2 separate regions of the Homo sapiens genome follow, and region 2 is linked to region 1. The links come from fine-mapping of genetic effects on gene expression. A gene starts in region 1. The other region holds a variant in brackets. All regions are shown on one strand. Distances are between the middles of the regions.

Evidence for each region. PIP is the estimated chance that this variant, and not a neighbour inherited with it, causes the effect.
Region 2: its variant is the best candidate, but not a certain one, in a credible set for the expression of SCYL2 in whole blood (INTERVAL, PIP 0.56).

Annotation. Positions count from the first base shown.
Region 1 is chr12:100,264,619-100,269,010 of GRCh38, reverse strand. SCYL2 (SCY1 like pseudokinase 2) reads right to left here and starts at 1,834. Exons shown (of 18, transcript NM_017988.6): 1 at 1,219-1,834. It overlaps DEPDC4 (DEP domain containing 4), which reads left to right and starts at 1,932. Exons shown (of 10, transcript NM_001364818.2): 1 at 1,932-2,091. The coding sequence starts at 1,935. RefSeq lists enhancers at 1,200-1,259, 1,270-1,339, 2,010-2,089 and silencers at 1,410-1,489, 1,590-1,639.
Region 2 is chr12:100,343,416-100,347,807 of GRCh38, reverse strand. No RefSeq gene overlaps it. Among named protein-coding and RNA genes, the nearest start is that of SLC17A8, 11 kb to the left of the region's middle. The variant G/A (reference allele first, on the strand shown) is at 1,972.

The DNA of each region.
Region 1 (4,392 bases):
GGAGGCTACGGAAGTAGTCAGGATGAGAGATGGTGGTGGCTTGGAACAGGACTACTGTTACAGACGAAGAGCAGACAAGAGTCAAGAGATATTCAAGAGGCAAAATCAACAGGACTTCATGAGAGGCTGAGTATGAAGCACGACAGAGGAATTGTCAAACTTCAACTTCTATACAAAGGAATGGATAGTGATGCTACCCACGGAGTTAAACACAGTAAGAGGAGCTATTTTTCTTCTTGGGGTGGGGGAAGGGAGGTATATCATGAATTTCAAACATGTGAATATGAGTAGTTATTCCCAGTAACAGGGTTGATCTGTCTAGAAAGTATTCCACAGTATAGAAGTACAATGTGCCTGTATTTATTTTACTGGGTATTTATGAATCTTAGAGACAAAATAGGTTTCTGCATGTGAGTAATGTAAATCTAAAGAGAATGAAGGCCCTTACCTTCCATTAGGTTCCCTTCCTTTACACAATCCCCCAAAAGCATTCTTTATGATTACAGTTTAATGTTGCCTCAAGAAGTAATTTATATACTCAGCTGATTTCATTTTTAAATATTTTAAAAATATTTGTGCTAAAGAATAAGACAGCAAACCAAACAACAACAAACCTGCAAAGTCCAAAAGGAATCTTCAAGCACCTGACTTTCAAGCCATCACCAGAACATAATGGGGTTTTACAGTGGCAGGCTGATTTGGAGCATTTTTGCTAAACTATTTATTTTTCAGAACGGAGATAGGCTACTTAGAAAACTCACTCATAGTATCCAATGTTTTTAGAAAGTGTCATCACAAATAATTCCTGAGTTTGACGTACTAAAAAATAGTTGACACCTTCCAATGAAGTCACTACAGGCATAGCGCTTTTAAGCAGCTTGTCTGGAGCCTCCTCGAGTGCCTTAGAGGGTGGATTTGATAATATGGCCTCCTTAATTACGGATCACAGGTATGTGCTCAAAGTCCAATAAGTTTTTGCAAGCTTTATCGGTCTAAACCCTCCTCCATCCGTATTCTCCCGTTTAGAAAAACAAGACTGCAGGAGTAACCGTGGGGTTTTTTCTCTTAACAAAACCCCTGCCCCACCCACCTCACACACAATAACCTTCCATTCCAGAACTAAAGCTACTGTCAGAGAAGGACGGCGGGCGGCAGGGCCCTGGCTGGTGACCCAGGCTACCGGATTCCGGACCTCAGAACTGAGGTGAACTCTCTCACCCGGTCCTAGAGTAGTGTCCAATGTCCCCGAAAGGTACTACGTTCTCCACCACCGAAACCCGAGCTCTCGAGCCGGCATGGGGGGCTCTCCCTCCGGCAGCTGACTTCGATCCCGGGTCTCCCGTCGCCTCAAGGCCTCTTTCGAGGACTCGGCCCTCTCGGATCCGCTCCCCGGAGCTCGCTGCTCGTCCAGCCCCGCTTTGCGCGGGCGCCGACCGCCGATCGCCCGGCCGGCCGCCGGCAGGCCCGTCACCAGGCAACACCCACCAGCCTGAGCGGCCCTGGGAGGCCTAACCCGGGCGCGAGTCCTCCATTCCCTCCTCGCCGGCTCCGGGAGCCCAGGCGAGAGAGCCGCCGGTGAGGGAGGTCGGTCGGTGCCGGCGGCCGGTCACTTACCTCTTCCTTCTTCCAGGAGGGGCGGTGCTGGGGCTCTTTCCCCCCGCCCCCCTAATAAACGCCTCCTGGCTGTTCCTGCTCTGCCTTCGTGCCTGGCCACTGACTCTGGCTTTACTCCATATCCTCCGCCGCCCCCGCGGCCGCAAACGTCGGAGCTAGAAGGAAAGGGGTGGGGAGGGGAGGGACCGGGGACGAAGAGTAAGGGAGGGGGAAAAAGACTAAAAGACCTGCCGGCCGGGGGCATGACGTCACTTCCTGCCGGTTCGGAAGAGGCGGAGCCAGTACTTCTCTCCGCCCCGGGTGTCAGGTGGGGCGGGGCTATGGTGCCAGGGGAGGAGCCAGCGCGCGAGCTTATGGCGGTTCTTTTGACTCCGAGGTTCCGTAGACTTGTCAGTCAGAACGAGCTTCCGGGCCCAGGGCTGAACGGGCCAAGTTCCAGGAACCGTAGAGATGGCTTCTGCCGGAAAAGGAGGACAGGTAGCCCTGTATATCCTAGCCAAATGTGCAGTGAAGGTGGAGGGGGCAGCTGAAGGGAGCAGGCGGCTGGGACTCTGCTCCTCATTGGTCCAGGGCCCCGCCCATTTCCTAGCCCCGCCCCCTTCCTGCCCTACCAGGCACTGGACTGGGGGACCCAGGACTGAGGCTTTTTAGGGGTTACTGTGGTGAAGTGCCCTTGGAGCGTGCAGGAAAGCGTTTTTTCTCAAACTTTAATATACATACGAATCCCTAGGATCTTGTGAAAGTGCAAATTCTGATTGAGGAGTAGGGTCTGATAATCTGCGTTTCTAATACATGTCCAGATGGCACCAATGCTGCTGGTCCCTAGGCTACACTTACAGCAACAAGGGGTTAATGTACTAGAGGGCAAATTCCTTGAGCTAGAGGAGTTATTTCTTTAATCTAGCCTACTTGTTTAATGAAGGTTAGAGAGGTAGACTGTCTATGGAAAACAGGCTGTACCGCTGTATTTTCCACCTACCCCGTCGAGTACCCTCCTGCCCACCTCCGCCCATCACTTTCTGGCCTCCCCTCCTCAGTCTCCGCTCTGCCCACAATGTCTGGGGATAAGATTTCTTGAGTGATTAGACGGGTAACTTCTGTTACAGAAGGAATTTGAGGGTGGTGGATTTTTATTTCTGTCATTTTATCGTAAACATATGTATAGTTGGGCATACTTTTGCGGTTATGCATAGTTGGAGAAGAGAGCTTAAGTTCTTGGATTCTACCCACTTCCCCCTGCAAATCTAGAAAAAACATTCTAGAAGTTCTAAGTTATTCCCTTATCATTCTTTAATTTTTTTAATTAATTTTAATTAAATTTAATTTTAATTAAAATTTTACTGGGGTACGGAAGAATGAAGAATGACTGCGAACTATAGGTTTCTTTGTGGAATGATGCAATGGTCTGAAATTAGATAATAGTGATGGCTGCACAACTTTGTGAATGTACTAGAAACACTGAATTGTACACTTTAAAAGGGTACATCCTCTTTCATCAGCCACCATTACAATCCTTCTTCCCCAAGGTTACTCGTTTGAAGTTTATTCTTCCAGATCTTTCTATTTATTTACATACATTTTTACATAGGTTGGGAATTCATTTTTACCTAAGTAGGATAATAATATACAAGTTGTTCTGCTCAGCTCATTTTTAAAAAATTTTTGTTTTGGGTTTTTCTTTTTCCCTACTTAATGAGATCCTTGCACACTATAAACATAGCTCTACTTCATTCTTTCTAATGGCTGGCTACTATTCTATAGTAAGGGTATACCATAATTTATTTAACTGTTTTTTTCAGGTAATAGACTGTTTTTTTTCCCTTGCCCAGGCTGGAGTGCAATGGCGTGATCTCGGCTCACCGCAACCTCCACCTCCTGGTTCTAGCAATTCTCCTGCCTCAGCTTCCCAAGTAGCTGGGATTACAGGCGTGCGACACCATGCCCAGCTAAATTTTTTTGTGTTGTATTTTTGGTAGAGATGGGGTTTCACTATGTTGGCCAGTGTGGTCTTGAACTCCTGACCTCCACCTGCCTCAGCCTCCCAAAGTGCTGGGATTACAGGCTTAAGCCACTGCGCCTGGCCAACTGTTTTTGTTTCTAATTGAGACAGGGTCTCACTCTGTTGCCCTGACTGGAGTGCAGTGGCAGGGTCACAGCTCACTGCAGCCTCGGCCTCCCTGGCTCAAGTGATCCTCCCACCTCAGCCTCCTGAGCAGCTGGGACTATAGGAGCACGCCACCATGCCCCACTAATTTTTTGTATTTTTTATAGAGTCTCCCTGTGTTGCCCAAGCTAGTCTTGAAATCCTGAGTTCATGCGATCCTTCTGCTTCAGCCTCCCAAAGTGCTGGGATTACAGGCATGAGCCACTGAACCTGGCCAGTAATAGACATTTTGATTGTTTTTAGGTTTTCATTATTTCTCAGCAATTTTTTTTTCTTTTTGCCCAGAGAAGTGGGATTTCTGTTATTTGGAGAGTAAGTTCAGCATGTGATAAGGCAATTTTTTTTCATTATGCAATATGTCCATGTAAAATAAGGCACATCTTTATCTAAACCCCTTAATCGGGAGCAACAGTGGAAGCACTTTCTAGAGCCCAATATCTCTACAATGTTTGGTAGTTTCACTTCATAATTTAGATAATTGGGTTATATTCAAGTATTCAGCTCAAGTGGGTATGTGACCCTCTTTCATTTTTCAGCAAACTTTTTTTTTTTTTGAGACAGAGTCTTGCTCTGTCACCAAGGCTGGAGTGCAGTGGCGCGATTTCAGCTCACTG
Region 2 (4,392 bases), 79 kb before region 1:
ACCTTTAGTGATCCATCCACCTCGGCCTCCCAAAGTGCTGGGATTACAGGCATAAGCCACATCGCCCAGCCAGGTGAAGTATTTGTTTTTCATTAAAGCAGAGTTTATTTTAGAGATCTATATCATCACAAAGTGAGTGGAAAAATCTATTGAGCACCTACTATGTGCCAGGAGCTGTGCTAGGTGCTTTGCACACTTTGCACACTAATCCTAATAGGCCTGTAAGGTGTGATCTTATTTCGTAGCTGAGAAAACTTATTCTGGTCAGTTAAGTGAAAGAGACAAGATTTACACTCATTCAGTCCGTGTAACTGTTTATACTCTACCTGATTCCAAAAGAGGATTTCTATGAACATAGATAAAAAACTTATTTTAAAAGGAAATCAGAGCAAATGAGAAATAAGGATTTTTTAAAAATCAGATAAAGCCAGAAGGTACGCATTGAATATTGCATACTATTATTATCCTATACATTTGCTACAGGTAAACAGCACATTTGGCTGAATCTCTTAGCTGTATTACCTAATCTGTTACTTTATGCGGACTTTAAAAGGTAGAAGCAGGCCAGGCGCGGTGGCTCACGCCACCCAGCACTTTGGGAGGCCAAGGCGGGTGGATCACCTGAGGTCAGGAGTTCGAGGCCAGCCTGGCCAACATGGCAAAACCCTGTCTCTACTAAAAATACAAAAAAAAAAAAAAAAAAAAAATCAGCCAGGCGTGGTGGCTGGTGCCTGTAAACCCAGTTACTTGGGAGGCTGAGGTACAAGAATCGCTTGGTCCCAGGAGGTGGTGGTTGCAATGAGCCGAGATCATGCCACTGCACTCCAGCCTGGACAACAGAGTGAGATTCATTCTCAAAAAAAAAAAAAAAAAGGAAGGGCAAACCACTTGCTTAGAAGCACATTGACTCCTGAACTGAAACCTGAAACCTCTCCAGTGGGTCCTCAAAGAAGCTATTTATGTGGGAGTGAACCAATGTCATCCCTGGCGTAAATACAAGTTCACAGCATAGTCAAAAGCTACCAGTGATAAAAGAAACCTGATGCATGGAGAAAACAAGGCAACCCAGGCACAAAGGTCTCAAGAGTGGGCTTAATTCAGAATTTCTAGAGAAAATGAATGGATTACTCAATTTTTGGCCTCCTCAATAAACATCTCTCAAAAACGAGATTTTGCCCATTGGGCAATAGAGAGTTAAATGTTGCTCTCTGACAAGTGGCTGGAGTACAGGTACCATTGCTGATTGAGGGCAGATTCACATAACCACTGTAGCTGGAGACAGACGTGACAACCTCTTATAAAATGTGAGCAGTCTAATGAGGACACCCACCTCAGTGAAAAGCCTTTCCATCTCTTTACAGATACAATCTTAAGAGTGCCAAATGTTAGAGACAAGATTTTCTTAAAAACAATTTTGGGGCCGGGCACAGCGGCTCACTCTTGTAATCCCAGCACTTTGGGAGGTCAAAGTGGGTGGATCGCTTGAGCTCAGGAGCTCGAGACCAGCCTGGGCAACATGGTGAAACCTTGTCTTTACCAAAAAAAAAAAAATTAAATTAAATTTTAAAAAATACAGAAATTAGCTGGGTGTGGTGGTGCATGCCTGTAGCCCCAGCTACTCAGGAGGCTTGGGGTGGGAGGATTGCTTGAGCCTGGAAGGTGGAGGTTGCAGTGAGCCAAGATCATGCCACTGCACTTCAGCCTGGGTGACAGAGCCAGACCCTGTCTTAGACAAAAAAAAAAAAAAAAAAAAAAAAAATTGGATCTGTTACAACACGCAAATGTGTAAAGTACCCTGCCCCACGTCTATAAAGTGTGAGTACTACAATTTTAGCCTGAAATTTTTTTAATAAAAGCACCTTTTTCTGGCTCCAAACTTCATACACCATATGCTTCTAGTGTGACCATGGATATGCCTCACATTTGAGTTTTGACTGATCATTATGTTCAAAAAGACTGGTAGGCTGAGGG[G/A]CATAGACTTGGGGCAAATCTATGTTTATTCCTACAATCAAACTACAGACATTAACGTCTCTATCTCATTTACCTTTATATAAAAGTCAAACACTGCCTTTACTAGCAACCAAGGTCACCACACAAAGGAACATATCCAAAACACAGGAGGAAAAAAGACAAAAATTGGAACTGCATCCAGTAGGTATAATTAAAGTAGCCAAACTGTATTTCTACTGTGGGAACTTTCAAAAGAACTTCCATAAAGTTTTAATATAGGATAGGTAAACACAATTCCAATGGCTTTTGATAGCAGTATATATTTATGGCCCCATTTTAAAATGACTTATTATTGGATTCAGGCTCTATCAGTGAGGGTAAGTAAGGAGACAGAAACCCCACACCAGATACTTGAACAGGGAAGTTTTAATATAATATTTGCTAACTAGTAGAAGCTGGTAAATTATTTGTAGGGGCAAAAGAGGACTCTAAGGGGCACAGAAGTAGCAGGTAAAAGGCAAATACTGCCTCTAGGCTGAAGAAAAGTGAAAAAAAAAAAAAAATGAACTAAAGACCAGGAGAGGCTCTCTTCCCCTACTCCACTCCCAAGCTGAGATCAGACTTCTCTGGAGAGGGTGTGGTTTCTACAGGAACATTCAGCCTGCCATGGTGAAGAAACTTGTCCGAGGGAATGGGCCACAGAATGGAAGACAGTTGCTTGATGGAGTGGCAGAGCTGGCATGGAAGCAGCCCATGGGAGCTGCTCCACAGTGGCTCAGGGTTGGGAGAAGGTAACCTGAGGTGCAGCTGGAGCTCCTCTGTTTGGACTGCTGGGCTTCTATGGTGGATAATAATGGGAGACCCACAACCATAAGTAAAGTATCTTCTTGCAGCTCTTGCTTTGCAGTGCCACTCTGGGGCCCTCATTTTTCCAGCTGGCAAAGGAAAAAAACAGTACAAGGCAAGGCAAAGGATGGGTTTGGAACTGAAACCATAAGTTGATAAATGCCATCATTCACTCCTTTAGTCACCGAGCTTCCATATACATCCACATTGTCTTATTTATTTTTTAGATGGAGTCTCACTGTCACTCAGGCTGGAGTGCAGTGGCACAATCTCGGCTCACTGCAACCTCCGCCTCCTGGGTTCAAACGATTCTCCGGCCTCAGCCTCCCAAGTAGCTGGGATTACAGGCGCCCCACACCTGGCTAATTTTTGGTATTTTTAGTAGAGACAGAATTTCACCATGTTGGCCAGGCTAGTCTCAAACTCCCGACTTCGGGAGCCGCTGTGGCTCAGGCCGGTTGCCGTGGCACTCGGGGAGGCGAGGCTACACGTTCGAGGCCAACCTGGTCAACATTGATTCAAACTCCCGACCTCAGGTGATCCACCCGCCTCAGCCTCCCAAAGTGCTGGGATTATAGGCATGAGCCACTGAGCCCAGACTATATCCACATTATCTAATGCAGCAGCTACTAGCCACGTGGCTCCTAAGTACCCGAAATATGACTAGTCTGAAGTTAAATGTGCTAAGTGTAAAATACACACTGCATCTCAAAGACTAAGTACCCAAAAAGATGTAAAATGTGAGTTTTTTATATCAATTCCATGCAGAAATATTTTAATTTTTTTTTTCTTAGATAGGGTCTCACTCTGTCACCCAGGCTGGAATGCAGTGGTGCGTTATCGGCTCACTGCAACCTCTGGGCTCAAGTGATCTTCCCACCTCAACCTCCCAAGTAGCTGGAACTACAGGCATATGCCACCATACTCAGCTAATTTTGTGTATTTTTTGTAGAGACGGGGTTTTACCGTGTTGCCCAAGCTGGTCTTGAACTCCTGGATTCAAGCTATCCACCCACCTTGGCCTCCCAAAGTGCTGGGATTACAGGCATGAGCCACCATACCTGGCAATATTAAAATATAATAAAATCAATTTCAGGGCCTGGAGCAGTGGCTCATGCCTGTAATCTCAGCACTTTGGGAGACTGACGTGGGCGGAGCATTTGAGGTCATGACTTCGAGACCAGCCTGGCCAACATGGTGAAACCCTGTCTCCACTAAAATTACCAAAATTAGCTGGGAGTGGTGGCGGATGCCTGTAGTCCCAGTTAGTTAGGAGGCTGAGGCAGAAGAATCTCTTCAACCTGGGAGGTAGAGGCTGCAGTGAGCCGAGATCGCTGCAGTGAACTGAGATCACAGCACTGCACTTCAGCCTGGGCGACAGAAGGAGACTGGTCTCAAAGGAAAAAAAAAATCAATTTCACCTATTTTTAATGGGATTACTAGAAAATTTTAAGTTACATATGTGGTTTTTACCCCTGGTAGTTAAATCCTTTCTGAGTGGCTGGAGCAACTTTGCTTCTTTGGACAGAAAAAGTTTCTAAACTTCAACAAGTTCCATCTTGGTGAAATGGCTTTTTCTTTTCTTTTTTTTTTTTA